3 separate regions of the Homo sapiens genome follow, and regions 1 and 3 are each linked to region 2. Evidence: fine-mapped QTL for protein levels in blood plasma. A gene starts in region 2. Each other region holds a variant in brackets. All regions are shown on one strand. Distances are from middle to middle.

The links. PIP is the posterior inclusion probability: the model's chance that the variant is causal. Protein levels are from antibody-based Olink assays in UK Biobank. Linkage for the fine-mapping came from a reference panel and not from the study's own genotypes, which makes the PIPs less certain.
Region 1: its variant is fine-mapped to the plasma level of the CLMP protein (UK Biobank, PIP above 0.99). The variant lies in the coding sequence of CLMP. If it changes the protein, the assay may bind it differently, which can mimic a change of level.
Region 3: its variant is fine-mapped to the plasma level of the CLMP protein (UK Biobank, PIP above 0.99).

Annotation. Positions count from the first base shown.
Region 1 is chr11:123,091,250-123,099,427 of GRCh38, reverse strand. It overlaps CLMP (CXADR like cell adhesion molecule), which reads left to right. Exons shown (of 7, transcript NM_024769.5): 2 at 1,476-1,633. Among named protein-coding and RNA genes, the nearest start is that of HSPA8, 33 kb to the right of the region's middle. The variant G/A (reference allele first, on the strand shown) is at 1,610.
Region 2 is chr11:123,190,248-123,198,425 of GRCh38, reverse strand. CLMP (CXADR like cell adhesion molecule) reads left to right here and starts at 3,178. Exons shown (of 7, transcript NM_024769.5): 1 at 3,178-3,513. The coding sequence starts at 3,486.
Region 3 is chr11:123,100,324-123,108,501 of GRCh38, reverse strand. All of the region lies in intron 1 of CLMP (CXADR like cell adhesion molecule), which reads left to right. Among named protein-coding and RNA genes, the nearest start is that of HSPA8, 42 kb to the right of the region's middle. The variant T/A (reference allele first, on the strand shown) is at 6,614.

The DNA of each region.
Region 1 (8,178 bases), 99 kb after region 2:
ATTTCTCTCCTCTAAATTTGCATAGCCCTTTGATCATAAATAATTTCCCTTTATACTACAGTATTTGTGTAATTGTCTTTTCATCCTTCTAAATACATGCTACTGGTCAGCAACAACTGTTACTAGACTTAAAGAAAGTAAGAAGGTTCATCTCTAAGGTTTTCTCCAGCTTCAAATGACTATGACTCTATAACTTAAGAACATGAGTTTCTGGGCAACTTAGTGCAGTTTCCATGAGTATCATCTTCTTGGAAGCCTCTGCTAATAGAAGACAGAAAGATCAAAAACACAGTTGTTTCCAGGCACGGTGGCTCATGCCTGCAATTCTAGCACTTTGTGAGGCCAAGGTTGGAGAATCGCTTCAGCCCAGAAGTAACCTGGGACCTGGCATAATAACAGAGCAAGACCCTGTCTCTACAAAAAATTAGCCAGCACGGCCGGACGCGGTGGCTCACGCCTGCAATCCCAGCACTTTGGGAGGCTGAGGAGGGTGGATGGTGAGGTCAAGAGTTCAAGACTAGCCTGGCCAAGATGGTGAAACCCCGTCTCTACTAAAAAGTACAAAAATTACAGCGTGCCTGTAATCCCAGCTACTTGGGAGGCTGAGGCACGAGAATCGCTTGAACCTGGGGGACGGAGGTTGCAGTGAGCCGAGATCGCACCACTGCACTCCAGCCTGGGTGACAGAGCGAGACTCTATCTCAAAAAAAAAAAAAAAAAAAAAAATTAGCCAGGATGGTGGCATGTGCCTATAGTCTTAGCTTCTCTGGAGCCTGAGGTGGGAGGATCTCTTGAATTGGTGAGGTCGAGGGTGCAATGAGCCATGATTGCACCACTGAACTCCAGCCTGGTCATCAGAGAGACACTCAATCTCTCTAAAAACAAACAAACAAACAAACAGGCCGGGCACAGTGGCTCATGCTTATAATACCAGCACTTTGGGAGACCAAGGCGGGTGGATCACCTGAAGTTAGGAGTTCGAGACCAGCCTGGCCAACATGGTGAAACCCTGTCTCTACTAAAAATACAAAAATTAGCTGGGTGTGGTGGCATGCGCCTGTAGTTCCAGCTACTCACGAGGCTAAGGCAGGAGAATCACTTGAACTCAGGAGGCAGAGGTTGCAGTGAGCCGAGATCATGCCATTGCACTCCAGCCTGGGCGACAAGAGCAAAACTCCATCTCAAAAAAAAAAAGTTAACATGAGCAATTTCATTGTTCATAAAGACCAAGTAAGGTAAGAAAGACAGGCACTAGTAGGATGTAATTTGGGGTGGTTAAAGAAGATGTGATGAATTCAGTTAACGGAGGAGCCAGTGTGAGACCAGGACTTCTAGTACACCTGGTCTAGGACTCTTGCAACCCCTCCACATGCACTTGCCCACGGGAACATCCCATAATTCTTTGTTGTCATATTTGCTCCCCACACATTGCCATCCAGTCTCTGCATTACTCATTAAAGATTTTCCTCTTCCAGTTTCCTACTATGTTGGAACCTTGGGGACTCACACTGAGATCAAGAGAGTGGCAGAGGAAAAGGTCACTTTGCCCTGCCACCATCAACTGGGGCTTCCAGAAAAAGACACTCTGGATATTGAATGGCTGCTCACC[G/A]ATAATGAAGGGAACCAAAAAGTGGTAAGTAGACACCTGGCTGGAGTCCCTCCTCCTTCTTGTCCTCCTGCATTTGCCTTTCTTCAGTCTTCCAGTCTTTCTTTCTGGCTCTGAAAGAGCTGGAGTTCCTTTTTCATCTGGCTTCTACTTGAAAGACTTTAGATACAAAACTATAGAGAAGAAAGAGTATTGCTGGGTGTGGTGGCTCACACCTATAATCTCAGCATTTTGGGAGGCCAAGGTGGGTGGATCACCTGAGGTCAGGAGTTCGAGACCAGCCTGGCCAACATGGTGAAACCTTGTCTCTACTAATAATAGCCGGGTGTGGTGGCCTATGCCTGTAAACCTAGCTACTTGGGAGGCTGAGGCAGGAGAATTGCTTAAACCCCAGAGGTGGAGGTTGCAGTGAGCTGAGATCATGCCACTGCACTCCAGCCTGGGTGACACAGCAAGACTCCATCTCAAAAAAAAAGAAAGAAAGAAAAATTAGCCAGATGTGGTGGCACATATCTGTAGTGTCAGCCACTTGGGAGGCTGAGGTGGGAGGATCACTTGAGCCCAGGAGTGCCAGGCTGCAGTGAGCTATGATCACACCTGTAAATAGCCACTGCACTTGAGCCTGGGCAATACAGCAAGACCCTGTCTCTAAATAAATAAGAAGTTGTCAGGCCGGGTGCAGTGACTCACACCTGCAATCCCAACACTTTGGGAGCCTGAGGGGGGTGAACTGCTTGAGCCCAGGAGTTCAAGACCAGCCTGGGCAACAAAGTGAGACTCCCTCTGTACCAAAAAAATTTTTTTAATTAGCCAGATGTGATGCCACATGCCCATAGTCCCAGCTTCTCACGAGGCTGAAGCAGGAGGATCGCTTGAGTGCAGGAGGATCGCCTGAGTGCAGAAGGATCGCTTGAGCCCAGGAGGTCAAGGCTGCAGTGAGCTGAGATCACACCACTGTACTCCAGCCTGGGCAACAGACCCAGACACTGTTTCTAAAAAAACAAAAACAAAACAAAAGCAAAAGAAAGAAAAAAGTTGTCCTTTCCTCTTCTCTGTCTACACCACTAATTTTATAACATGGTTTATGTTGGGAAGAGCTAAGGTTTTCACTGAAAACAGATTTCAGGATCACTATTATAGTGTAACTTGCTTAAATAGCTGTCTACATCACCTCATTATATTGATATTGCTTGTCATTTTGTTCTCATACAGCAACATCCTAAGATACTATCTGTTCTCTGTAGAGCGAGGTCACTTTAACCTGAGTAGGTTTATTGATTTATTTATTTTTTTATTTTGGGACAGAGTCTCACTTTGTTGTCCAGGCTGGAGTGCAATGGCTCAATCTTAGCTCACTGCAACCTCCACTCACAGGGTTCAAGCGATTCTCCCGCTTCAGCCTCTTGAGCAGCTGGGATTACAGACGTGCACCACCACGCCTGGCTGATTTTTGTTGTTGTTGTTGTTTGAGATGAAGTCTCACTCTGTCGCCCAGGCTGGAGTGCTGTGGTGCCATCTCAGCTCACTGCCACCTCCGCCTCCTGGGTTCAAGCGATTCTCATGCCTCCAACTCCTGAGTAGCTGGGATTACAGGCATCCACCACCACGCCCAGCTAATTTTTGTTTTTTTAGTAGAGATTGAGTGTCGCCATGCTGGTCTCGAACTCCTGACCTCAGGTGTTCGGCCTGCCTCGGCCTCCCAAAGTGCTGGGATTACAGGCGTGAGCCACTGTGCCAGACCTCTGAGTATGTTTATTTTAACAGCTTCTTGGTCAGCCTAGATTTGATACTCTCAGTTCTGAATGAAGTGATGTTCATGTTTATTACAGCCCATGTTCCTGTAATAAAAATCCAAGAATGACTCTGATAGATTCTCTTCTTTGATCACACTTGAGGCAGGTTCTTGCGGTCTTTCTGACTAGAGCTAATCTTGGACTTCCCTCTCTGCCCTCGTAGAATACATTTTGAGCAAGAATGCTGCTAAGTCAGGTTAGTGAAAATGCTCCACTCTTGGTATCTTATTACCCTATCCTGCCTACAATAATAATCCTATCAAGCAGGTTCAATCAGAAACCCCCTCATCTCTGATGTTCCCTCTTAGTAATTTCATGACCCTCACCCTGCTCCTTGGTTGTAAACTCCCCTTGTACTTGCTGGAATCAGAGTCAAGCCCAATCTCTGACTCACAGGTCTTCATACCTATTACCATGGCGCCTCTTGAATAGTCTGTTTTACTATCTTTAACAAGTTTTGGCCAGGTGCGGTGGCTCACACCTGTAATCCCAGCACTTTGGGAGGCCAAGGTGGGTGGATAACCTGAGGTTAGGAGTTCAAGATCAGGCTGGGCAACATGGTGAAACTCTGTCTCTACTAAAAATACAAAAAATAAGCCAAGCCTGGTGGCATCTGCCCGTAATCCCAGCTACTCAGGAGGCCAAGGCAGGAGAATAGCTTGGAGCTGAGATCGAGCCATTGCACTCCAGCCTGGGCAACAGAGCAAGACTGTCTCAAAAAAAAAAAAGTTTCACTGGATAATTTTCTCATTAGCAATTTCACACATCTAACTTTCACCCAAGTATTTTCATTTGAATTAAAGAAAAAAAGACTTGCTTGGTTATATAGCCAAGTGAATATAAGGATTAGGATGTTAATTATTGATTTCAAAAAGCCCTTGATATGGCTTTAAGCAGTCACAATTCCCTGCTTGTCTTCAGTTGATACTGTGAAGCAAGGATGTCCATTTATTCAATCATTCAGATTACACAAACTTATTTAGCACTTACTGTATGCCATGCTAGGTACCAGGATACAATAGTGAAGAAGACATCATAGTCCTTGCCTTCTTAGAGGTTATAGTGAGAAGACATTTAATAATTTTTTACAAAGAGCCTGGCACAGTGGCTAGTGTCTGCAATCTCAGCTACTCAGGAGGCTGAGGTGGGTAGATTGCTTGAACCCAGGAGTTTGAGACCAGCCTGGGTGACACAGTGAGATTCTATCTCTTAAATAATTTTTCTTTTAAGAAAGGAGGGGAAGGGGTAGTTAGAAAGGTAGGAACAAAGAAACCAATAAATATGCCAGGTGCAAATCTGTTTAGCACGTATTATCTCATGTTATTTAATATGTGCCAGTTGCAGTAGCTTGTGCCTGTAGTCCCAGCTACTCGGGAGGTTGAGGTGGGAGGACTACTTGAGGCCAGGAGTTCCAGATGGCCTGAGCAACAGAGTGAGAACTCCCATTTCTAAAACAATTTTTAAAATTTGTTAATGTAATACTGATAACTAGGATTAATGGGCCCATTTTACAAATAAGGAGCTGAGGTATGCCCACATGTGTGTAAACACACAAACATAGTGAACAAATTGCCTAAGGTCACCTAATTTGCATTTTCAAATTAGGCACCCTGGGCTGGGCCGGGCGGGCACAGTGGCTCATGCCTGTAATCCCAGCAGTTTGGGAGGCCCAGGCAGGAGGTCCACTTGAGCTCAGGAGTTCAAGACCAGCCTGGGCAACATGGTGAAACCCCACCTCTACTAAAATTACAAAAATTAGCTGGGCATGGTGGCGCAGGCCTATAATCTCAGCCACTTATGAGGCTAAGGTGGGAGAATGGCTGAGCATGGGAAGTCGAGGCTGCAGTGAGCAGAGATGGCGCCACTGCACTCCAGCCTGGGTGACAGGAGACCATTTCAAAACAACACAAATGAACAAAAAACAAATTAGGCACCCTGACCTCAGTGCCTGGTCTGAGAACCACTAGCTGTATTACCTTCATAAATAATGTGAAAGTGTAATATGTGCTATGTAGGCTGCTTCTCTGAGAAAACACCAAATGGCGGAAAAATCCTGATCTAAAACATCAAGAGAGATCTGCATCCATCTCCATTCAGAGCAGTTTTACGACTGCTCTGCAGGCGATGGCACAGCAGAATGACTGCCAGAAAGTTGAGCTGCTCCATCTGTTCTATATAAGTCCTAACAAATTGTTCCAGGTCCACCAGGAATGACAAACAGCCCCAAACCACTGAAATTCATATTTTTAATTTTTTTATTTGTTTGCAAAAGGACTAAATTGATGTTCATTTTTCTCCCATCACACCCTGATGAACTGCTTAGTCTCAACACTACACTTCTTAGGATAAAAAACAAAATAGGCTGGGCACAGTGGCTCACACCTGTAATCCTAGCACTTTGGGAGGCCCAAAGTATAATACTAGCACTTTGGGTGGGCAGATCATTTGAGGTCAAGAGTTTGAAACCAGCCTGCCCAACATGGTGAAACCCTCTCTCGACTAAAAACACAAAAAATTAGCCAGGCATGGTGGTAGGCACCTGTAATCCCAGCTACTTGGGAGACTGAGGCAGGAGAATTGCTTGAACCTGTGAGGCGGAGGTCACAGTGAGCCGAGATCGCACCACTGCACTCCAGTCTGGGTGACAGAGTGAGACTCCATCCCCACCCCGCAAAAAATAGTATCTTGCAATTGTATAATTTCACCTTTCCAAAGATGTCAGATGCTTGCCTGCATGTTATCCCTTTTTTCTTCATTAAATATTGAGACAGTCTTGGCCTGGGCAACACAGTGAGACCTGTCTCTTAAAAGTAGGTGTGTGATGGCCGGGCGTGGTGGTTCACACCTGTAATTCCAGCACTTTGGGAGGCTGAGGCCAGTGGATCACAAGGTCAGGAGTTTGAGACCAACCTGACCAACATGGTGAAACCCCGTCTCTACTAAAAATACAAAAATTAGCCAGGAGTGATGGCGGGTGCCTGTAGTCCCAGTTACTCAGGAGGCTGAGGCAGGAGAATCGCTTGAACCTGGGATGAGGAGGTTGCAGTGAGCAGAGATCATACCGCTGCACTCCAGCCTGGGCGACAGCATGAGACAACATCTCAAAAAAAAAAAAAAAAAAGTGTGTGTCAGGCCAGGCACAGTGGCTCACACCTGTAATCTCAGCACTTTGGGAGGCCGAGGTGGGCAGATCACGAGGTCAGGAGCTCAAGGGCAGCTTGACCAATATGGTGAAACCCCATCTCTACTAAAAATACAAAAAAATTAGCCGGGCATGGTGGCACACACATGTAGTTCCAGCTACTTGGGAGGCTGAGGCAGAAGAATCACTTGAACCCAGGAGGCGAAGGTTGCAGGGAGCTGAGATTGCATCACTGTACTCCAGCCTGGGCAAAAGAGAGAGTCTCTGTCTCAAAAAAGAAAAGAAAAATGTGGCCAGGCACAGTGGCTCACGCCTGTAATCCCAGCACTTTGGGAGGCCAAGGCGGGTGGATCACAAGGTCAAGAGTTCAAGACCAACCTGGCCAATATGGTGACACCCAGTCTCTACTAAAAATACAAAAATTAGCCGGGCGTGGTGGTGTGTGCCTGTAGTCCCAGCTACTCGAGAGGCTGAGGCAGAAGAATCGCTTGAACCCGGGAGGTGGAGGTTGCAGTGGGCCAAGATTGTGCCACTGCACTCCAACCTGGGCGACAGAGCTAGGCTCCGTCTCAAAAAGAAAAAAAAGTGTGTGTCTTTGTGTGTGTGTGTGTGTGTGTGGAGACAAGATTTTAGGGAAAGCGAGGAAAAGCAGATGGAGTCAGACCTACCTGAACGTACTGTGCACTATGGTAGCAGTATGCCCCAAACACCACAGGTTGAAGCAGGGAGTCACCATTCTAACTGGGGAGTCGAGAAAGGCTATATACAGAAAGTGGTCCTTGAGCTTGATCTTGAGGCCTTATATAGGTGTTGTTGAGGCAAAAATAGAAGAGGAAAAGGCATTTCAGAAAGAAAAAACTGTGTAATCAAAGCCGAGATCTATCAGAAGACACTATTCAGAATCAAGAAACATCAGGTTTGGGGACAACGAGATTCAGAGATGTGAGGGCAGGAGTCAAAAATGAGGCATGGTCCAGACTGCGCTGGCATAGGTGTAACCTTCAGAAGCCAAGCCTTCATCAGTGTGCACAGGTGATGGGAAACAGATTTTCAGCCAGGTGAGCTTTGCTACACAAACGTGTGGAATTGTAGCAGGCTGTTTCTCCCTAACAATCACACAGATGGGCCTGCATGACAGTCACACAGACAGGCCTGCACAGCACTCCAGTTACACAGACAAATTTCCACAGCACTGCCTTAACACTGAGCAAATAATTAAACCTAGGGAAATCGGTGCCCAGACATCAAAGCTAGAAATATAAACATATGGTCAGTAGGAGACGTGCATAGGCTTCTCCCTATCCTGGAGCAAGTCAAAATAACGGAGACAGTCTCACATTCCTAGTGCCAGGACCTGTCTTGGGTTGTCGAAATCTGAGACAGTCAAGGTAACAGAGGCAGTTGTTTGAATAGATTTATTGGAAAGTCTAAGCAGCTCTTCAGACCAAGCTGTACATGAGATAAGATAGGAATAATCACTCCGGATGGGCACGGTGGCTCATGCCTGTAATCCCAGCACTTTGGGAGACTGAGGTGGGCAGGTCGCTTAAGGTCAGGGGTTTGAGACCAGCTTGGCCAAACTGGTGAAACCCCATCTCTACTAAAACTACAAAAATTAGCTGGACGTGGTGGCATGC
Region 2 (8,178 bases):
TACCCCAGCCTAAGGTGCTCTTTCCTTTCTTGGAATTCCCACTGTTTTTTATTGTCAGGATAATTTACTGTGGCATTTAACTATCTAACTTTCTTGTATTGTTGTTGAAACATTTCCCATGTTGGTGTTTTTTCTCCCTCTGAACTGAGAGGTCCGTCCATTCAGGGTAAGGACTATCTCGTAATCTTGGGATCCTCCGAGGCACCCAGCCCAGAGTGGGGCCCAGCACTGGTAGGGATGGGATGTGAGTTACAAACCATCGCAGAAGCACTCTCTCTCTGCTCTTCCTGCCCAGAGACCCATGCCAATAGAAAAGAGGTTTCAGATTTAGAGACAGACACCTTCAGGGACCCAAAGATCCTCTTCCAAAAAATATGTGCCATATTGGCTACAAGACTTGGGGCTGGGAAAATTGAGTGCTTGTGACCCAATCTCAGTCTAATCATTTCCTGTGCTGGTGACTAATGACCTAGAGCCAAAGGCGCCTGTTACCTTCGGCTTGAGCAACTGGGTTTAAACACATATCTGCCTACACCCACACACATCTGTCTTCATGCGCACACCAGCCCTCAAGCAATAAACAGCACTGGCATTACTAAGTTCTTGAGAAAGGCCACCAGCAGCGGTGGGGTGGAGGTGAGGCTTTAAAACTTGTGCAAAAACCCCACCTCTAGAGAGAAATAAAAAGGGGGAATCTGGGTGAAGAATTTTTGTACTATTTTCAACTTTTTTGTAAGCCCAAAATGTCAATTTTTTTTTTAATTATAAAGCAGAAACAACAAAAGAGTTACCTTCTGTATGTAGTTTTTCTGCCACCTTCTCCAGCCTTTAAGAATTACTGTTTTTGGCTGGGGATGGTGGCTCATGCCCGTAATCCCAGCATTTTGGGAGTTCGAGTCAGGTGAACTGCTTGAGCCCAGGAGTTTGAGACCAGCCTGGGCAATACAGCGAAACCCAATCTCTACCAAAAATACAAATATTAGCCGGGCATGATGGTGTGAGCCTGTAGTCTCAGCTACTTGGAAGGATGAGGTGGGAGGATCACTTGCACCCAGGAGGCAGAGGTTGCAGTGAACCTGGGTGACAGAGTGAGGCTCTGTCTCAAAAAAAAAAAAAGAAAAGAAAAAAGACGGTTTTTTCAACATATTCATTTACAAATTATAGTTGTGAATGTATCTATTTCCCCTATTAGACAATTAGTATGAAATGGAAAATAAAGTTACTTCGGAGTCAAAGAGACCTTTTAAACACTTCTCAATATAAAAAATAATATTTTTAAATATTAGAATATTAATATTGGAATAGAAGCATTTTAATTCTATTGTGATCTGGGGCAAGATATTTAGGCCTCTCTAAGTTATAGTTTCCTTGTCTTCCTATTCATGCTAAGGGATGGTGATTTTTTTTTCAGTGACTATCCCTTAGCAGTATAATAAGAATGATATAAAAAGGTCAATAATATGACCCAATAAAAACCACGTAATAATATAATATGATTCTGGGTCCATACTTGGTGTTCATGACATACTCCTCCCAGGTTTTTTTAAATGTCAACTTCCAAGTTCTACTCACTTTGTGTCCTCACACCTAAAAAAGCACCTGGCATAGTGTGGATGCTAACACATCGGTATCGAAGGGGTGAGGGAGTGAGTGGAGAAATGCTGCAATTCTAAAGCAATGCTCCAGCTGATCCGCGAGCCCTAGGAACAGCCCCAGCTTTTGCAAGTCCTCTGAGTGACCTTGTGAAACTTCCATAACCTCTCCAGGCCTTTGCTTTCCTAGTCTGCGAAATGGGACGGGTTTTCATTACACATTTGCATTTCATTGCAAATGTGTGACTCGGCAGCCCACCGGCCCCGGCGGGGTTCATCTTTCTTCTCAAGAGCGCTGGCCCCGGCTTCCAACCTGGGCTCTGGCGAGGCCGAAGGTGAGCGATTGCGTCATCATGCCTCTGGGCAGCTGAGGGAGAAGCCCTCCAGGGACATTCAGAGACTGGGACCAGAGTTTCTGAGAGGCCCTGGGCACAAGGTCAGGGCAGGAGGTCCAGGCAGCTGAGGTCTGAGCGCCACCCTCACTGCCCTTTCTTAGTCTCGCTGCCTCCCGCTGCCGCTGAGCAGCAGGGTAGTGAAGGGCAGACTCCCAGGGGCCGACCCTGGGGCGGGGCTGCTCGGCTCCGCGGAACCCACCGTCCGCCCCCGTCCGGCCGCCAGCCTCCTGCCCTCCGCGAGCCTCCTGGGCCGGGTTCCCGGAGCCCGGGCGCGCAGGCCCTGGCACCAGGGGGATTCTGCTCCCTCTGCCTTATGTTCTTTCTGAAAGGGGGTGGTGCACATTTTGGCCAGGGCCACGTGCAGAGCACTTTGCTGCAAAGCATCTCGATAGACCTCTTTCCACGGGGCTGTGGGTCCCCTTCCCCTGGGTGCTGGCTGGCTTAGCTCTGCTCGGGACCTGAGGGAGCGCTGCTGCAAATACCGACAGTAGAAAGCGAGCGAACGCGAAAGGCCCCAGGAAAGCCAGGCCAAGGGGGGTAGCCGGGTGCCAAAGCAGGCAGTCGGTGGGGAGAGCCCTGGTCGGCCGGCCGCTGGCTGCCTTCGCACCCACTTCCGCGCCCCGCCGTCGGCCTGGTCAGTCTGGTGGCTTTACACTAACAGAACCAGACGGGGAGGGAGAGGAGAGGCGAGAAGAGCGCAGAGGACAGAGGGGAGAGGGCATGAGGAGACGAGGAGGGAGAGGCAAGAATGCGAACAAGGAGACCTAGAGAGGAAGAGATGGAAGAGAGAAACGCCAGATTTGTGAGAGACGTGGAAGCAGAGAGAAACGAGAGTAAAAAAGAAGCGAGAGAGAAGTGGAGAGAAGGACCAAGTGAGAGCAGAGCTCTAGGAACGGACAAGGCCTCGTCCATGGGCTCTCAGCCGAGGTGTCACCAATGCCTCCTGCAAAGAATCAATCCTACGCCCGGCGCCTCTCAACCCACCCGCCTCTGCACGGCCCCAGGTCTCCCCCGGCCCTCCCTGCCCGGCCAGCTCACGCTTCTCCCCGACCGGCCCCCACCGCAAACCCCAAACGCCGCGCGGGAGGGAGGGAGGGAAGGAGGGAACAGCGAGAGAGAGAGGGAGGGGCTGCGGTAGGAGGCAACCATGTGGTTCCAGCTGAATTTTTTTTTTCCCTCTCTCTTTCTTCACTCCTTTTTCTTTCCAAACAGGGAAAAGTGTTCCACGAAGCGGTAGCGCCTTTTCGCCTCGCGTTTTCCTCCCTGACCCTGGTCCCGGCTCCCGTCCGGGCGCCAGCTGGTGGGGCGAGCGCCGGGAGCCCATCTGCCCCCAGGGGCACGGGGCGCGGGGCCGGCTCCCGCCCGGCACATGGCTGCAGCCACCTCGCGCGCACCCCGAGGCGCCGCGCCCAGCTCGCCCGAGGTCCGTCGGAGGCGCCCGGCCGCCCCGGAGCCAAGCAGCAGCTGAGCGGGGAAGCGCCCGCGTCCGGGGATCGGGATGTCCCTCCTCCTTCTCCTCTTGCTAGGTGAGTGCCTCTGGGAGGGCGGGAGTTTGGATGGCCGTGGGCAAACGCAGCCCTGCGTCCGGGAAAGACGCCGGTTCTGACCGGGTGTCCCTGCAGCCCCTGGAGTCAGCCGGCTTTTCAGTCCCTGCCTCCTGGCCACGGAGGAGCACATCTGGCAACCGAGGGCCGCCCAGTCGGCCATCGAGATTGTCTCGCACATCTGGGCCCTTGAACAGGCTTGGGGAACCGTTTGATGTGCAGGGTCCTCTTTAGGGCGGTGTTTAGTTTCTGGTGTATCTGGGAAAAGTGGAGAATTGGTGGAGGGAAGGTTTATCCAGGAATTTTTGTGCCAGGTTCCTGAGGGTGGGGGTTTTTTGTTGTTGTTTCAAACAGGCGCCTCCGAGGCTCAGATTAGAAACAGATGTGTTAAAGGGTGAGCAGAGTGGGGGATAGGCAGGGTTGGAGAGGAAAGGGGAGAGGGAAAAAGGGCAGGGCCCAAGGAGCACCAGGAAGATGCAAATGCCCCAAGTCACACAGGGAAGGAAGGAAAAGGGGAAAGGGGAAGGGTTGGGAAGGAGAGAGAAAAAGAGGAGAACAGGAATGTAAAACAGAAGAGCAAGGCTGGGGGAGTCCGAGCACAGAGAGTGAAGAAGACTTGGAAAAAACGCAGCAGAGGAACCAGAACAGAGGGAAATAGAGCAAGCACCACTTTTTCCTGAAACAGGCTCCAGAGCAAAGGGAAGAGTCCTCCTGAGCGTCCCTTCCTGGGGTCCCCCAGGCAGGACTCTTGGGGCCTCAGAGGCCCTGAGGCAGAGGCAGGTTTGCAGGAGAGGACATCAGGGATGTGGGTGGTAGGAGCCCACCGGAGTGACTGGAAATGTCTGAGGAGCCAGGGCAGGAAAGGCAGTCAGGGAGAGCCAAGGGCACGTCACTATGCACCCTGAAGCATGGGATCCACTGCAGACAGGCCCCACAGTTAGCTGGAGATCAGAAAATCAAAGAGCCAGCCAGTGGTCAAGAGTGAGCACTACCCTGAACACCAGGCCACGGGAGAGCTGGTCCTGGTTTTGAACTGACTAGCTGGGTGGCCTCAGACAACTTACTCCTTATCCAGGGCTTCCACGTCTTTAGCTCTGGAAAGAGAATACTAGATGGTTCCTAAGTCCCTTCTAGCCTACAACACCAGAGGTTTGAAGGAGGCTGGTGTCTAGAAGAACCACCAAATCCTGAAATACGTGGTTAGAGTTCTCTGTCTTTTTTGAAACTTTACAAACCAATTATACTGTATGCATACCCATCTTGGCCAGCCTCAGGCTGATAATCACTTAAGTTAGAGAAATGAAAGAGGTGGGCTAAGCCAAACTATTGCTCAAGTAAGGCAGGTGGGGAGGGGTTATTTTCTAAACTCTTTTAGACTTAACCAAATACTGCAATACTGTTCCTGTGCACATCTGGCGCAGCTGGATGGCACCTTGATTCCCTTTACTGGACTCTACCACTAGGTTACCAATCACCAGATATTTAGTAGAATGAAACTTCAGGGCTCTCTTATTAAAAACAGCTAATAGTCCTTGTTATATGAACACTTTATATGTACTATCTTGGTAATTCGTTTGTTCTTCACAACAAGCCTATTGGCTGCCCAGCCATCCTTGTTGGCTACCCTCATTTTACAGATGAAGAAACCAAGCTGTAAAAAGGCCAGGTAACTTGCTCAAGGCCACACACTCATAATTAGGGGAGACGGAATTTGAGCGCAGGCTGCCTGCTTCCAGAGAAAGCTTGCTAAAGCGCATTGCTTTACAGCCTCCTGTGGCTGCAGAGATTCTCAAAGCGCTTACCCTCTGCCACACCTGGCTGGCTCTTCGATCTCACCATCCTCTTCATGGAATGTAAGATGTCAGCGTGACCTATAGGAGAGAGGTCTGGGAAAGGGAAAAAAAATTTGCACTTTTTGAGCACCTGTCCTTATTTAAGAAATGGTTTGGAGCCATGGAATGCTCGGACACTGTTCAGCAAAGGCAGAAAGAAAACACAGCAAGTTGTCTGAATCCTGAAATCATCATACTGGTCCTTTAAAGGGGCAGTTCCAGGGCTGCTTCTGATCCTGGCTGGCATGGTTTTTGGCTTCTCTTTTTCTAAAGATTGCACAGTATCAAACAGGGGCTGGGAGGGTGGAGAGTGTTCATCGTCTGAACTGTGGGACAGTTGACTCCATGTTTCCTGGACCTGCCAATGAGTGAGGTCAAATAACCCACCTCTCTGATGTGAATGAATAAGAAGTGCTCTGAGCCCCATGGAGAAGAGAGAAGGAGCTCCAGCTCAGCCCCTCTTCTGACCCACTATCCTGCCTCACTCCCGTAACGTTCCGGCCCTCATTGTGCCACCTTAACTTCTCTCCTGGATGACTATAGTAGCTGCCACGTTCCTGTCCTGCCTGTCCTCTCTCCTCCATCCTGCACACTGCTACCCGAGTAACCCTGTGAGGCCGCTGGTAGAATGCACGAAGCTGGAACTTAAGAGTCTGGCAACCTCTCTGGTTCTTATTCTGACTCCCTTGTCTGTACAATGGGCATAGGGGTAGGGGAATGTTCAATTCAAAATTTCTATAATTCTATGGTTTTTCTCCCTTCTTCCAAAAACCTTTAGTAGTCTCATTGCTTTTAGTGTTGAGTATAAACACTTCATTCTGACATCAAAGACTTTACATAATGTCATTCACAGCTCTTCCTCTACTCACCCCCAGATACTCGGTAGGGAACCTGAATTACTTCATGCGCCCAAAACATGTCCCATGCTTCTTTCTAATTCTATGCTTTTGTTTATGATAATCCCCCCACCAAAACTGCCTCCTTATTTCCTGCCACTGCAGATCAAAATCATGTTCATTCCCCAAGTCTCACCTCAAATGCCACTTCCTCCATACACCTGTCCATGGTTTCACCAGCTGAATATACTTTTTTTCTTTTGAGTAGTCTATTTGACCTTTGAATCCCAATAGCCTTCCTCTTATGCTACTTTGTATTATGGTGTTCCAAATGCTTATCTAACACCCCATTAGAATGGAAGCTCCATGAAGGCAGGGACAGTGTCTCATTCACCTGTGAACCATGTTCAGTACCTTGCATAAACACTTGTGAACTATTTGTTAAGAGATAATTGGATTTTTGAAGTATTTGAAATCTTTAAGGTCAAGAGAGGTGAAAAATTTGGAAGATCACTAACCTTTGACTGCGGGATAACCCAATAGTGAGGAGCCCAGTTTTAATTCAGCTTGCTTTGAGCTTCCTTGTCTATTAATGCAAATAGGACCAGTCCTATTTTTAAAAAATTCACAAAGAACATTACAGGGATAGGGACCAGATAATATATTTGTCATACAAATTTATTTTGTATATCGTGTGTGCTAGTACCAGATTAAAAATAGACTTACCTGTTGAAACTTCTGCCAGCACGGGGAAGGAGCCTGGTTTCGCAGAAAGTGAGTTTGAAGAAGGCATGAATGCATAGTCCATTGGTCTGTAAGATAACGACAGGTCTCAGTAGGATTCCATGTCCTACCCTTATCTTCCCACTTTAATGGTGATGGTCATAATAACGATATATTCCCTGTAGGCTTATATCTAGTCATATCCTATTTTTGTCTTGTGCTTATCTGGGCAGGGTACACATGAGTATTATTTCATGAATGCATCTAGTGATGATGGATATTTTTTAAAGGTAGAGTCAAAGATTGCCAGAACTGGAGGAAAACTAAGAGACTGTTTAAATCAATCGTTCTTAAAATTTTGAGTCCCAGACCCTTTGTAGAATCTGATGAAAATCACAAAACCAACTTCTTAGAAAAAGACATGTATACATCAAATTTGCCAATAATATTTAAGACCTCATTGAGACCTCCTGATACTTTTCCTTGGAACCCAAGTTAATCTTTCATCTAAATCTATGCCTTCTTTTAAGATGAAGAAGAAACCAAAGTTCAGAGAGGTTTGGCTAAGGTTATACAGCTAGCTCAGTAGAAGGGCCAAGACTGGAACCCGAATTCCATGATCCTATTACACATTTTTGAAATAGAAAAATGTCTCTCCTTCCTTTTCAGCTCATGTACTTAAGCTTCAAGATCACAGCTGCTCTTGTGATGCTTCAGTTAAGTGAGCTAAATGCTGAATAATTGGCATTGGTTTTTATTATATGAGAAATTGCCTGAAAAATCAGGCAGGCGTCATAACATTTCAATTTTGCCAACGTAACTGGAAGTCCTAGGAACTCTGCAGTGTCATGTATGTCTGGTGTATTCAGGAGAAAGGAATTAATACTCAAAGTCCCAAAGATGTGGGTGTATGTGTACAAGGAACAGGACTGGAAATCAATAGCTTTAGCTCCTTAATCATTTCTTCTGGGTGAGCCTAGGAAAATCATACCACTCTGAGCCTTAGTTTTCTCCTTTGTAAAATGAAAATATGAGATTAAGGTTATCTCTAAGTTTCCTTATACCAGTAACATTCTCTGAATTTTTTTTAATTCTGAGAATTTTCTGGCTGGTCCAGATGTGGTTGTCATCAGGAACAGATGGGTGTTACCCTGCTTATTGATTTTTTCAGGCACTGTTCACTCATGGCAATTGGTAGCACATGATGATAAACCAAGAAGGGTCAACGAACTAATTGGAAGAAAACAGTAGTAATC
Region 3 (8,178 bases), 90 kb after region 2:
CCCAAAGCTCAGGCTGTCACCTGGGTCCTTGTATCCACACCCCTAATATTAAGGACTCTAGGAACAAATATCCTCCTTGGAGGGGTGGGAGGAGATAACTAGGCACTGTATTGACTCCCAGATGTCTGAAATTCCACTGATAACTTGCAAGCTTCATTCCTTTGGCTTTAGGCTTTAAACTGTTTAAGTACCAAATATATGTTTGTATTTAAAAAGACAGTAAAATGTCAGGGATTTAGCAGCTCATAGTAAATATGGTCTTCTTCTTCTGAAGACTCTCATAAAAGGAGTGGACTGGAGAGGTTCTGGGGTTGGGCTGGGTGTGGGATTGGGAAAGCAAATGGCAGAGGAACTTCACTAGTTCGTGACAAGGGAGGCTAGGGGGAGCTGATCGGAGAGGACAGGTGGTGCCATTAGCTTCCAGGTGCTCCCTCCGTCTAGAATTCTTTTCCCTCCCTCTGTGTGGTAAAAACATGCCTGTCTCTCCAGAACTACCTCCATCCTTACTCACTGCAGTCTTCCTTAATTGCTCGTCAGGAATGACCTTCTCTACAATATTATCAATTTTCTTAGGTGTGCTAAGATGGCTGTTGTTGTGAGGAATAACATGCTTATTTTTAGGAGATGTGCACTGCAACATTTAGACTTAGTGTCATGCCATCCACAACTTGATTTCAACTGGTACAACAAAAAAAAAATAGGAGAGAGCACACAAAAGCGAGCAAATATAGCCAAATGCTAACAGTGATGAAGCAAAATGACTTCCAAACTTTTCACAATCCTGGTTTGTCCATGTGGTATGTTTTCTGGTTTTCCCTGTCTTTCAAAATGCAACACGGTGGTGGCCCATGCCTGTGATCCCAGCACTTTCAGAGGCCGAGGCGGGAGGACTGCTTGAGCTCAGGAGCCTGAGGCCAGCCTGGGCAACATAGTGAAACCCTGTTTCTGAAAAAAAAAAAAAAAAAAATTTAGGTCAGGTGCGGTGGCTCGCACCTGTAATCCCAGCACTTTGGGAGGCTGAAGTGGGAGGATCACCTGAGGTCAGGACTTTGAGACCAGCCTGGCCAACACGGTGAAAGCCCATCTCTACTAAAAATACGAAAATTTGCCAGATGTGGTGGCATGCGCCTATAATCCCAGCTATTCACAAGGCTGAGGCAGGAGAATCGCTTGAACCCAGGAGGCCGAGGTTTCGGTGAGCTGAGATCACGCCACTGCACTCCAGCCTGGGTGACAGAGTGAGACTCCGTCTAAATTAAAAAAAAAAAATTTCATTAGCCAGGCATGGTGGTGAAAGCCTATAGTCCCAGCTACTTGGGAGGCTGAGGTGGGAGGATCACTTGAGCCCAGGGAGTTCAGGCTGCAGTGAGTTATGATTGTGCCACTGCACTCCAGCCTGGCAGAAAGAGCATCTGAGACCCTGTCTCAAAAAAAAAAAATGCAGCAAGTACAATTATTATTATTATTATTTTTTTTTTTTTTTGAGACGGAGTCTCGCTCTGTCGCCCAGGCTGGAGTGCAGTGGCTCAATCCGGCTCACTGCAAGCTCCGCCTCCCGGGTTCACACCATTCTCCTGCCTCAGCCTCCCGAGTAGCTGGGACTACAGGCGCCCACCACCTCGCCGGGCTAATTTTTTGTATTTTTAGTAGAGACGGGGTTTCACTGTGTTAGCCAGGATGGTCTCGATCTCCTGACCTCGTGATCCGCCCACCTCGACCTCCCAACGTGCTGGGATTACAGGCGTGAGCCACTGCACCCAGCCACAAGTACAATTATTAATAGTAGTTGCCATTTGCTGAGTGTGTGCTACATACCATGCGCCAGTGCTAGACACTTTCATGCATCATATGTAATGCTTACAATAACTTCCAAAGTTGATGTTTTTATTTTCCTTTTACGGAAAAGTAAACAACTTGGAGCAATCAGGGAATTAATTGGTCTTACAGCCACTACTCAAGTCCAGACCTCTCAGACTCCAAAGCTCATCCTCTTTCTATTGCATCATGCTGTGTCTTGAACTGCATACAGTGTTCCATAAACAATCTGGAAGGCAGGCACGTGCGCGCGCGCGCGCGCACACACACACACACACACACACACACACACACACACACACACCTCCTACAGAATTATATATGTAGCTGGGGTGAAGGGAAAACTTCCCGTCTGCCCGCTGAAGGTTCATTGAAAAGCACTGACAAGAGGCAGATTAATAGGAGAAAAGGCATACAAATTTAATAAACTGTTCAAGAGTGTCCAATCTTTTTGCTTCCCTGAGCCACACTGGAAGAAGAAGAATTATCTTGGGCCACACATAAAATACACTAACAACAGCTGATGAGCTAAAAAAAAAAATAGAATAAAATCACAATAAAATCTCATAATAGCAGGGCATGGTGGCTCACAGCTGTAATTCCAGCACTTCAGAAGTCTGAGGTGGGTGGATCACTGAGGTCAGGAGTTCGAGACCAGCCTGGCCAACATGGTGAAACCCCGTCTCTACTAAAAATACAAAAATTAGCCAGGCGTGGTGGCGTGGGCCTGTAATCCCAGCTACTCGGGAGGCTGAGGCACAAGAATCGCTGGAACCCGGGAGGCGGAGGTTGCAGTGAGCTGAGATTGCGCTACTGTACTCCAGCCTGGGTGACAGAGCAAGATTGTCTCAAAAAAAAAAAAACAAAAAACAAACAAACAAAAACCACAGTTCCTCCTGCCCATCTCTTTGAAGGGGGTCTTAAGGTTCAGGAGAATCTATGAGAAAATGTAAATACGGCTTGGCACAGTGGCTCACACCTATAATCCCAGCACTTTGGGAGTCCAAGATAGGCAGATCACCTGAGGTCAGGAGTTTGAGACAAACCTGACAAACGTGGCAAAACCCTGTCTCTACTAAAAATACAAAATTAACCAGGTGTGGTGGCGCATGCCTGTAATCCCAGCTATTCACGTGGCTGAGGCAGGAGAATCGCTTGAACCCAGGAGGCGGAGGTTGTGGTGAGCCAAGATTGTGCCACTGCACTCCAGCCTGGGCGACAGAGCAAGACTCCATCTCAAAAAAAAAGAAAGAAAGAAAAGAAGAAAGAAAGAGAGAGAGAGGAAGGAAGGAAGGAAGGAAGGGAGGGAGGGAGGGAGGGAGGGAGGGAGGGAAGGGAAGGAAATAAATGTAAATACCTTTTAGAGGATAAAACTTTAAACTACTCTTAATTGAGTGTAGGCAGCAGTCATGTGAGAAAAAGTCCCTTCTAGCAGAGATGAGCAGGGGAAGAGAACTAACATTTTAATGGGAGACTCCTATGTGCTTTCACAATGCTAGCTGCTTTCCTCAGTGTCTTCTTTAATTCCCATTTTGCGGATGGAAACACTAAGGCTCAGAAGGTAATTTTCTCAAGCTCCCAGAGGTCCTTTGATAAGTGCCTGAGGTGCATGCAAAAGCTCCCACTTAGGGAGAGCTTGCGGCTTCCCTGAAGGCATTCTGCCTGTGCCTAAGGAGGCAGTCCTTACCACTGCCACCACTCAGCACCTCTTCCCATAGGTAAATGCTGCAACAGAATCCTAGCAGAGACTATTCCCTTACTTGCAATTCTGCCACTAATTAGTTTTGTGACGTGACATCTCAATTCTCTGGGGTGCAATCTCCTCATAAGTTAAACTGATGATCTCTAAAGTCTTTCCTAACAAAGATGAATCTTCCAGTGCCCACGCAATCCAAGGCTAGCCACAGGATGGTCAGACTGCCCCTTTCCTCTCACCCATCAGATGGCAGACAAGCTCAGCAGCCCCCATGAGCACTGCTAAGCCTTGGAGTTAAAGACAGAGGCCGGACGCGGTGGCTCACACCTGTAATCCCAGCACTTTGGGAGGCTGAGGCGGGTGGATCATAAGGGGTCAGGAATTCGAGACGAGCCTGGCCAACATGGTGAAACCCCGTCTCTACTAAAGATACAAAAAATTAGCTGAGCATGGTGGCGCCTGCCTGTAATCCCAGCTACTTGAAAGGCTGAGGCAGGAGAATCGTTTGAACCTGGGAGGCGGAGGTTACAGCGAGCTGAGATGACGCCATTGCATTCCAGCCTGAGCAACAGGGCGAGACTCCGTCTGGGGAAAAAAAAAATAGAACCCAGGACCGGGCGCGGTGGCTCATGCCTGTAATCCTAGACTTTGGGAGGCTGAGGCGGGCAGATCACTTGAGGCCAGGAGTTTGAGACCAGCCTGGTCAACATGGAGAAACCCCATCTCTACTAAAAAAAATAGCTCGGTGGGTGGTGCAACCCTGTAATCCCAGTTACTCATGAACCCGAGATCACAGCACTGCACTCCAGCCTGGGCTACAGAGGGAGAATCTGGATTAAAAAAAAAAAAAAAAAAAAAAAAAGCCAGGCATGGTGGCTCAGGCCTGTAATCCCAGCACTTTGGGAGGCCGAGGCGGGCTGATCACCTGAGGTCAGGAGTTTGAAACCAGCTTGGCCAACGCAGTGAAATCCCGTCTCTACTAAAAATACAAAAATTAGCCAGGCATGGTGGTGCATGCCTGTAATCCCCGCTACTCAGGAGGCTGAGGCACAACAATCACTTTAACCTGGGAGGCAGAGGTTGCAGTGAGCCGAGATTGCGCGACTGCACTCTAGCCTGGGCAACAGAGTGACACTCTGTCTCAAAAAAAAAAAAAAAGAGACAGAACCCAGGCCCCTCTCTGCTTAGGTGGGTTTAAAAAAGAAAAGAAAAAAAAGTACAGAAGACCCTTTGAGCAATGTAAAAAAATGTAAAAGCTTTAATGTAAAAAAAAAGAAAGAAAGAAAGAAAAAAAAAGGGACAGAAGGAGAAGGACCTTAGAAATCTGTAGAAATCTCAGTGGCCTCCTGGAGTCTAACGAACTGAAGTTCAAGGAAGACTAGAAGTGTATGCGCCCTGATCTCATGGCTCCCTGCCTTGATGAAGCCATTTGTATTCACAGAGGGGCTCCTCCCTGCACTGCTGTATTTAATTCTGGATATGGTATAAATAGGACTTGGCTGACTGTCAAAGCACACCACCCGCCACAATGTTCCAGTTTTTTGGGGACATCAGACGAATCTGAGCCTTTGATTCCCTCTAGTGGCTTAAATTGGCAACTTTCATAGCTGGCTCTTGGCATTTGTTATTGAATGTTTAAGTATCTATTGTATGCACTAAATTGGTGCTGGGTTCTCTAGCTCTGCCTGGAATGTAGGGCACTGGTTTCATTTGAGCATTTTTGTGTCCGGTGGAAAGTGATCAGGGTTAAGCCAGAGCTCCTTCTTACAAAGCTCCTTCTTAACAAAGCTTAGCTTAGTACAGTGCAAACCAGTGAATTTCCCAGCTATTCTAAAGCTGCTTTATAGTAATTCTGGGAGGATGGGTTATTATATGGGTTATTTCTGCCGCTAAATGAGTTGTAGGACCTTGGGCTGTCTCTTTTACCCCTGGGTCTTAGTTTGCTCATTGGTAAAAATGAGCGTGTGGGTTACACTCAGATAAATTCAACAAATATTAATTGAACACCTGCAGTGTGAGACCCTGGGCTGAGTACTATGAGAAGGCAGCAATGAATGGTACTTGATGTCAAAGAGCTTACAGGATAATGGGAGAACCAGACATCCTGGAAGCCACATAAAATTGGGCAGGAGGAGGCTGGGCGTGGTAGCTCACACCTGTAATTCCAGCACTTTGGGAGGCTGAGGCGGGTGGATCACTTGAGGCCAAGAGTTCGAGACCAGCCTGACCAACATGGTGAAATCCTGTCTCTACTAAAAATACAAAAAAAAAAAAAAAAAAAAAGCTACTCGGGAGGCTGAGGCAGGAGAATCACTGGAACCTGGGAGGCGGAGGTTGCAGTGAGAGGAGATCGAGCCACTGCACTCCAGCCTGGGTGACAGAGCAAGACTATCTCAAAAAAAAAAAAAACCTGGCTGGGCACGGTGGCTGTCACCTGTAATCCCATCACTTTGGGAGGCCGAGGTGGGCGGATCACGAGGTCAGGAGATTGAGACCATCTTGGCCAACGTGGTGAAACCCTGTCTCTACTAAAAATACAAAAATTAGCTGGGTGTGGTGGCACATGCCTGTAGTCCCAGCTACTCAGGAGGCTGAGGCAGGAGAATCACTTGAACCGGGGAGTCGGAGGTTGCACTGAGCCAAGATTGTGCCACTGCACTCCAGCCTGGCGACAGAGAGACACTCCATCTCAAAAAAAAAAAAAAAAAAAACCTGGAAAGATAGCTCAAAGGGCCAATCTTAGGTTCTACAATAGTGTTATTTGCAGGAATAACTAGGGAAGTTGCATATCTTATTTTTTTTTTTTAGAGACAGGGTCTTACTCTGTCACCCATGCTGGAGTGCAGTGGTGCAATCATGGCTCACAACAGCCTCGACTTTCCAAGCTCAGGTGATCCTCCCACCTCAGCCCCCCAAGTAGCTGGGACTACAGGCTGGGCCGCCATGCCTGGCTAATTTTTGCATTTTTAGTGGAGATAGGGTTTGGCCATGTTGCCCAGGCTGGTCTCAAAACTCCTGGACTCAAGCAGTCCACCCACTCTGGCCTCCCAAAGTGCTGGGATTACAGGCATGAGCCACCGCACCCGGCCTGGAAGTTGCATA[T/A]CTTATAACCTTGGAGTAATGGCTGACAATGGCTTATGCCTGTGCCTTACCAGGATTTAGTCTCTCCTTCCCAGCCTGATGGCCTCCCATTAGCTTTGCAAAAGCGGTTGAGTTTTGGGCAAGGCCTGTTATCATTTAAACTGTAACCTAAATGTCTTCCAAAGTTAGCTTGGCCCAATAGCCCAGGAATAATTAAGGGAAAGGGAAGATCCAGGGAGGGTTAGTTTAGCTTACTGTTATAATTTTCCCACTGATATAACACTTGCCAAGGCCGTTTCAGATGCCTCTGAGGGCTCCTCCCCAGCAGTCTCAGCCCAAGCAGCCTTGCTGCAGAATGAAGCACAATCTCCCCTGCTCCATTCTTCTTCATCTCATTTCCCTGAAAGCAAGAATACCGGAAGCCATTTTCCTTCCCACAGATTGGCTGCTAATCAATTTTGGTAAATAAACAGGGAATTAGAGAATTAGAAAATAAACAGGGAGGCCGGGTTTGGTGGCTCATGCCTGTAATCCCAGCACTTTGGGAGGCCGAGGCAGGCGGATCACCTGAGGTCAGAAGTTTGAGACCAGCCTGGCTAACATGGTGAAGCCCCGTCTCTATTAAAAATACAGAAAAATCAGCCGGTGTGGCACACGCCTATAATCCCAGCTACTCCAGAGACTGAGACAGGAGAATGCCTTGAACCCAGGAGGCAGAGGTCGCAGTGAGCTGAGATCGCGCCACTGCACTCCAGCCTGGGTGACAGAGCGAGACTCCATCTCAAAAGAAAAGAAAAAGGCTGTTTCATATTTTGAAACCATCTGACAGGAAACTACAGAGAATGGAAGATAGAACTTGGGGGGATACAAGAATAGGTGTCTCTAAGGGAGGCAGGAACTCCTTGTAAGAGCCCACTTGTTCCCCAAGGTATTTCTGCACTCACAGAGAGGTCGGGGGCAGGCGGTGGGGGAGGAGGGTAGTAACCTGTCTCTAGGAAGGCTCTAAGGAGCAACCTGGAACCCAGCCCGTGACCTGGTATTGAAGCCTGTTTTGGGGAGGATGCCAAGCCCTGACTTCCTGTCTCAGTGGGAGGAAAAAAAAAGTGTTTTTGGGAAAAAGCAGAGAAATTAAGGGACCTGAGACAGTTTAGCCCAGGCACAATGGATGGAACAGAAGTGTTTCCAAGAGCTTCATTTAGAGGCACAAGAGAAATGAAAAATAAAGAAATAAAGCAAAGCAGGGCTGTGACTTCCTCTAACACAACAACTGAGGGTGGACACTATTTGCAGAGCTGTGTGAGCATCAGCAGTGGAAAGGGAGGCGCCGCCTGGGGAAAGAACACAGGGATGCCTGTTGGACAGATGCCTGCATCACAATGGACTTGAATCTAAACTCAGTGCCTACCCTCCCCAGCTCACCCCCAAATAAAACACATCGTACTCCTGGCTTCCCCATCACTGCTACTGCGATCACCATCCTACCAGTCATGCAAGCTTGAAAACAATCTTTGGTTTTTTTTTTTTTTTCTGAGAGGGAGTCTCGCTCTGTCACCCAGGCTGGAGTGCAATGGTGCGATCTCGGCTCA